Homo sapiens: one gene and its partner. Changing the gene in region 2 together with the main gene of any one other region gives a genetic interaction. Each region holds a gene or a part of one and is shown on either strand. Other genes may lie near its edges. The genes, in order: PHF5A and OPA1.

Region 1 (3,557 bases), on a different chromosome or scaffold from region 2:
CCAGGCTGGTGTGCAGTGGCGGGATCACTGTTCACTGCAGCCTCAATCTCCAAGGCTCAAGGGATCCTCCCATCTCAGCCTTCTGAGTAGCTGGGACTAAACTACAGGTGCATGCCACTATACCTGACTAGTTTTCATATTTTTCATAGAGATGGGTTTTTGCCATGTTGCCCAGGCCGGTCTTGAACTCCTGGGCTCAAGATCCGCCTGCCTGAGCCTCCCAAAGTGCTGGGATTACAGGCATGGGCTACTGTGCCCAGCCTCCACCATAACTGGAAGCTATCTCTTCAGTTCAAAATTAAAGTTGGACAGGAAGGAAAAAATAGTACGTTTCTAAAGATGACTTTGATCTATCTATAATGAAAGGTATGGGTGGTTTTGAATTCCTTCCAGTGGTAATAAGAGGACAAAGTACTTAACCAATCCCACTACCTCTGTTTTGAATCACAAATTCCTGGGTGACTAAAATAAATTCCTAGAGTTAAAGTTAAATGGGGAAGGTGACTACCAGAAAATAAACACCAACTTTATTAATATAATAGCAACAGAAAGAGTTTCCAATTTCTCAAAAGGAAAATAATATGAGACTAGTGGGCTATGATGATGCCTGTGAATAGCCAGCTACTGTACCCCACTGTAGCTGGACAAGTGTTAAACAAGTAAATGCCTTTCAAGAGGGCAGAGCCCTGCCCCCCCACCCCCCCCCCAAAAAAAACGGGAAATGCCTACATTTCTTGTTCTGATAGCTTCCCACCACACACCAAAGGTTCCTCAAGGACAGCTGCCACCAGAGCTGCTGCAAGAACATGTTTTTCACTGGGCGTCGCTTCACAGTCAGTTCCTCAAGCAGAAGACTAAAATATTATTTCTTTTTAGAAGATCTTGGTTGAGGGAGAACATACCAATATGGAGAACAGATCTTTGCTTCTCGAATTCAAGAAAAACCATTAACTAATCTATCAAGTTTTCTCCGATATGGTGTGCCAGAGTGCTCTGTGAAGAATCCTTTTCCATCCCTACCACGTGTCTGGGTGAAGGGAGAGGAGGGGGTGGCAAGCTGCCAGTACACTAGCAGGCACTCCTGGTGATGCTCTGGGCTCTGCTCCCTTTCTGCTGGTAGTAGTAGGCATGTTTTCTGGCAGCTGCAGCAGACTGATGTTGGGGGGAGGAAGGGGCCACCCACCAATCACCTCTTCTTGAAGCCGTATTTTTTGCGTTCATAGAAGAGGTCTGTCTTAGAGCTCCCCAGATTGACAATCTTTGGGCAGCCATCTCTCTGGAAAACAGAACAGAGAAGTTGTTAAGTCTTTGAGCCTGAACCAAGAGTGACTTAAGATAAAAAATTTAAGCCCAGTGTGGTAGCATGTGCCTTTAGTCCCAGCTACTACTCGAAGGCCGAGGCAGGAGGATTGCTGAAGCCCAGGAGTTCGAGACTAGTGGGCTATGATGATGCCTGTGAATAGCCAGCTACTGTACCCCACTGTAGGCAACATAGCGAGACCCCCATCTCTTGAAAAAAAAAAAATTGGTCACAGAGTTCAAATTCTCATCTTAGTATTTGAAGAACTCAATAAATGGGTTTGTAAATGTGTCCAAACACCAGTTATCTCCTTAATTGGGAGGCCCAGATCAGCACTGTTTCTTCCCTATCTCTTAGCACTTATGAAAGATCATTTATAGGCCGGGCACGGTGGCTCATGCCTGTAATCCCAGCACTTTGGGAGGCCGAGGCAGGTGGATCACCTGAGGTCAGAAGTTCGAGACCAGCCTGGCCAACATGGTAAAACCCCGTCTCTACTAAAAATACAAAAATTAGCCAGACGTGGTGGTGCGTGCCTGTAGTCCCAGCTACTCAGGAGGCTGAGGCAGGAGAATCGTTTGAACCCAGGAGGCGGAGGTAGCAGTGAGCTGAGATCACGCCACAGCACTCCAGCCTGGGTAACAAGAGAGAAACTCCATCTCAAAAAAAGAAAAAAAGACCATTTTATAACCTTTGGATTAATGGTTTAGCCATTTATCTTACCAATTATCCTATTTGATCTATCATCAATAATTTACTAAACACCTAAGAATGTGCTCAGGGCCTGCCTACCCTCTATCCAATGACTTGCAATTCATGTAGAATGCTGGATTCTCAGCCATGTCTGCTGCTATGACACAGTTGAGGTAGACTATGAAACTCTTTTTTTTTTTTTGAGAAGGAATCTCGCTCTGTCGCCAGGCTGGAGTGCAGTGGCGCGATCTCGGCTCACTGCAACCTCCGCCACCCGAGTAGCTGGGACTACAGGTACACGCCGCCATGCCCGGCTAATTTCTTTTGTATTTTAGTAGAGACAGGGTTTCACCATGCTGCTCAGGCTGGTCTCAAACTCCTGAGCTCAGGCAACCCGCCTGCCTCAGCCTCCCAAAGTGCTAGGATTACAGGCGTGAGTCACAGTGCTCGGCCATACCTTATATTTTATTTTTTTTTGAGACGGAGTCTTGCTCTGTTGCCAAGCTGGAGAGCAGTGACATGATCTCGGCTCACTGCAACCTCCGCCTTCCGGGTTCAAGCAATTCTCCTGCCTCAGCCTCCCGAGTAGTGGGGAGTACATGCACCCGCGACCATGCCCAGCTAATTTTTGTATTTTTAGTAAAGATGGGGTTTCACCATGTTGGCCAGGATGGTCTTGATCTCTTGACCTCCTGATCCACTCACCTCGGCCTCCTAAAGTGATGGGATTTCAGGCGTGAGCCACCGTGCCTGGCCCTTACATTTTAAATACCATAGGAGACTAATGGGTTTTATGTGTCTTCATTAATTCACTTAATTTGACACATGGTCTTGGGGGTACAGAGCACTACTGGCTAGAGATAGATGGCTGTTGACAGACCATGCACTAATTTGTCATGACAGGCTGCCCTGGCCATTTGATGAGCTTGAGTGCTTTCAGTGAAGCCCCTGGGAAGCTGTGTTATATAGAAATGATGACTCCATCAGTTGATTAGGGATGATGGGAGAAAAACCGGGGAAGCTGTAACTGGAAAACCCTTACAGGTCTGTTGATTTTATTAAACACCCATGTCAGAGTTTGAGTCCTGTGATATTAGGTGATAGTATGAATTAATCAAGTCCTTAGCCATCTCATTTCTAACTCAACTAATATCCTTCTTTGGGGGCAGACATCAACAACTACAAAAATCTCTGCAACTAACACTAACATTTTAGGATCTCCTAGAAAAGAAGTATCGAGTCATTACATTGAGCACTTCCATCTCTGAAGCCTGGTGTACCAAGGAAGCCGCCTACCAATAGCTTGCTAGGTGAACCCAAGTAAGCAACGTAATCTATATTTCATGTCCTCGTAAAAATGAGGCACTAGCTGCCTCTCCTGGACAAAGGCCTGATATTAGACATAATAACAGGACTCTCAACTCTTTAGAGAGGCTATGAAACTCATGATATGATGATAGCTTAAACTGTGCCTTACTGACTTGTGCAAATGTGGGCAAGTTGCTTCTCTTGGGACTTATATTACTCCTCAGCTGCAAAAGAAGAAGACTGGATCAGGTCAAGG
Region 2 (3,819 bases):
CTCCCACTCCCTTTGGATACCACATTACCACAGCTCTGCATCACTTAACTTTCCTCTTATGTTTTTCACCTTTTTTTTTTTTTTTTTTTTGCATTTTATGTCCTGGGGAATTTCCTTAATTCATTTCATGGTTTTACTGTTGATTTTTTTAATATTGGCCATCGCAACTTTTCTTTTCTTTTCCTTTCCTTTCCTTTCCTTTCCTTTCCTTTTCTTTTCTTTTCTTTTCTTTTCTTAATTTTCTTTTCTTTTCTTTTCTTTTCTGTTCTTTTCTTTTCTTTTCTTTTCTTTTCTTTCACACAGGATCTTGGCGTGTTGTCCAGGCTGGCCTCGAACTCCTGGGCTCAGGTAATCCTCTCACCTTGGCCTCCCAAAATGCCAGGATTACAGGCGTGCGCCACTGCATTTGGCGGCAACTTAATTTTTTTATTTTTATTTTTCCTTTTAGAGGACACCTAGCACTGAGCATTGCAACTTTTCATTTCCATGAACTTTTAAGAAAACTCTTAAAGACATGTTTAATTCTGTACACTTTCTATTGTTCTTTGATTGCTGTTTTTGAATAACAACAAGGAGTACGCCTTAGCATTTTGATGGTATCCTCTTAATAGTCGCAATAATAGTCCCCTTGGCGCTCTGTATACTCTCAAGTCTTAAATGTTTTGTATGCAGCTGTACGTTGACAGTTGAATGGTCTCGCTCCAAGTGGATCAGCAAGAACATAAAGAATCATTTAACTGGTACAGGCTGCGGCTTGTGAATTCCCTATTAACACCAAAGAAGACGTGTGAGACTCCGTACTGAAACTAAAGACGACTTGTGAGTTCCACACTGAGATCAAATAAGTCTTTATGATGGTGACAGAGAGTGGTGTCAACGCCTAAAGTTTTGGTTAATCTCTCTAAATTGAGGGGCTGACCAAAAGGGGGAACTTAACTGTATTAGACATAATTTTGAGAAACATGGGTATGTGGATGGTAATGGAGGAAATGGGTGTAGATGAGATTGCCTAGGGAGAGTGAGAAGTAGGTTAGGTCTAAGCCTTGATGAGTTCCCAACATTTCCAAGGGTAGTTGAGGATACTGAAAATGAGTGGCCAGTGAGATAGAGGTAAAGCTAGAGACTGCCCAGGGGAGAGGAATTTTCAACAATGAGGAGGTGTCAACATTGTCAGGTATTGCTGAGAGGTCAGATAAAACCAGAATTGAGCAAAATGGCCATTGGAAGCCTATGGTGCCCTCCGTAAGAGCTGTTTCGCTGAAGTGATAGAAACGGAAATCAGGCTGGGCACAGTGGCTCACTCCTGTAATCCCAGCACTTTGGGAGGCCGAGGTGGGCGGATCACCTGAGGTTAGGAGTTCGAGACCAGCCTGGCCAACATGGTGAAACCCTGTCTCTACTAAAAATACAAAAAGTAGCCAGGTGTGGTGGCAGGTCCCTGTAATCCCAGCTACTCAGGAGGCTGAGGCAGGAGAATCGCTTGAGCCCCAGAGGCGGAGGTTGCAGTGAGCAGAGATCGAGCCACTGCACTCCAACCTGGGTGACAGAGCAAGACTCCGTTTCAAAAAAAAAAAAAAAAAAAGAAATGGAAATCAGGATGGTTTGGCTTTTATTTTAATAAAATAGCTAGAGCAGGGAAATGGGGTACTTTTTTTCCCCCTTTTAAGATGAGACATAGCCAGGTGCAGTGGCTTACACCTGTAATCCCAACACTTTGAAAGGGAGGGTCGCTTGAGCTCAGGAGTTTGAGACCAGCCTAGGCAACATAGCAAGACCTTGTCTCTACTAAAATTCAAAAAAAATTAACTGGGCATGCTGGCACACACCTCTAGTCCCAGCTATTTATGAAGCTGAGGCAGGAGGATCACACTTGAGCCCAGATACGTGGGGCTGCAGTGAGCCCTGATAATGCCATTGCACTCCACGTTGGGCAACAGAGCAAGACTTCGTCTCAAAAATAAATAAATACCCTGTCTCAAAAATAAAAAATAAATATGGGAGGAGAGATTTGACTTAGATTCCTCAAAGGGCAGGAGGAAAGAGAATTCCAAACAGTGATTCACCTTTAATGGGAGAAAGATCGCTTAATTTTACATGAGGAAGAAGAGGATTGGTGGAGATACAGTAGGTGAACAGTTTTTGTATGAGGAAGTTGAACATGTGTCATTCTAATAGCTTCCATTCTCTGTGAAGTAGAGGGCAAGGTCATCTACTGAGAGTTGGGGAGGTCAAGAGAGATAAGGGGAGATTAGAAGAGCTCTTCTAGCAGAGAGTGGAAGAATGAATTGCTAAGAGAGATGAAGTAGGATTGTTAAGTAGTTTTGAGGGCCCTGTTGAGATGTGCTTCCAGTTGGGTGTGATTTTCTCCAGTAGTGCTTTATTTCCCTGGGTACAGGCAGAGAGAAAAACAATAAGGCTCATGTAGGGTTTGTATTTTGTTGGACAAGTCAAACAGAAAAGTCAGAGGACGAGGGAGTTTAGAATGTTTGCAAAAGAGTTATTGAAACGATGAACCGCATAATCTAAGGTGGTAAGTGGGTGAATAGATAAGGAGGATGTGAATAGGTAAGGAGAAGAAAGAAATATCAGATTATTGATTATTGATGGCGACTCTCTAATACAGCTATTATGCCATTTTAACCGATTAAGAAACTAAGGCTTTAGAAAATTCATAATTTGCCCTAACTGCACAGCTAGTAAGCAGTGGAAATGTGATTGGAACCAGAGTTCTTCTGACTCAATAGACTAAATGGATGTAAGGATGTAGTTGAAAGAAGGGTGAGCTAAACGTTGTGGAACCATGAGCTCTTTCTCTGGTTGATATCCCTCTCTGTAAGTGATAACATGGGTCACGCTGGATAAAACCTTGTGGTGATTGGTGACTTTCCTTTGTCCTTCCTCCTGTGCCTAGTCTGGCGAGTATCTGCCTTTCCCTTTCCTTTCTCATTGCTGCCACCTAACTTTAGGCTCTTCCCCTTACATCTGGGTAACTGAAATAAGATCACCTTTTTGTTCCCCTTCTGATTTACTTTGACCTAACATTATCTTTACTATTTTCTTTAAATTAATGTTTCATTAGTCTTATTCTACTCAGGAACTCTGTAGTTCCCCATTGCCTACGAAAAAAAGTTAAGCCTCAGCCTTATATTCAGTGACTCTTCAATTGGATATTCAGTCCAGTTTTACTCCTCCTATGAGCCTTCTATGCCAGCTCCTTGGGTCTCTTGCCCTTTCATTGTCTCAGCTCTGCACCCTTCTTTCTCTTTTTTATTCTTTTTTTTTTTTGTACTTTTTTGGTTTTCTTTTTGGTTTCTTTTTTTGTTTTATTTATTAAACCTCCATCACACTTCATCCTATGGAGTTTTGAACCACAGCAAGGTGCAGTATCATCCTGGGGCTCTGGAGGAAGTGGCAGGGAGTCCAAAATGTCACCTTAGCTTCTTATCTGGGGCCACATGTATTTCTGCATCTGCTGCTTCCCACACTCTTGCCCACAAGTGTCGCTTGTGGAAATAATTTGAGATTTACTGTCTGGCTGACCCTAGTTTCAATCTCTTTTCCACCATTTGCTAATCATTCTACCTTGGGCAAAACATAGAATTAAAAGAAAACTTCAGACAAGTTAAATTTGATGGAGTTTAATTGAGCAAAGAAAAAAAATGATCCACAAATTGGGCAGTCTCCAGAATCACCGCAGATTCAGAGAGACTCCAGGGGTGCCTCGTGGTCAGAACAAATTTATAGACAGAAAAGGTAAAGTGACCTACAGGAATCAGAATTGAGACATAGAAACAGTGAGATTGGTTACAGCTCGGCGTT

Evidence for each region.
Region 1: changes in OPA1 (region 2) and PHF5A together harm fitness less than expected from each alone (positive genetic interaction), as found in Homo sapiens cells (one large-scale study listed by BioGRID).

The regions. Positions count from the first base shown.
Region 1 is NC_000022.11:41,459,212-41,462,768, forward strand, and holds the end of PHF5A (PHD finger-like domain-containing protein 5A), read right to left. Parts: intron 1,277-3,557; coding exon 1,187-1,276; 3' UTR 506-1,186; downstream 1-505.
Region 2 is NC_000003.12:193,596,128-193,599,946, forward strand, and holds part of OPA1 (dynamin-like GTPase OPA1, mitochondrial), read left to right. Parts: intron 1-3,819. UniProt on the Homo sapiens protein: Dynamin-related GTPase that is essential for normal mitochondrial morphology by mediating fusion of the mitochondrial inner membranes, regulating cristae morphology and maintaining respiratory chain function.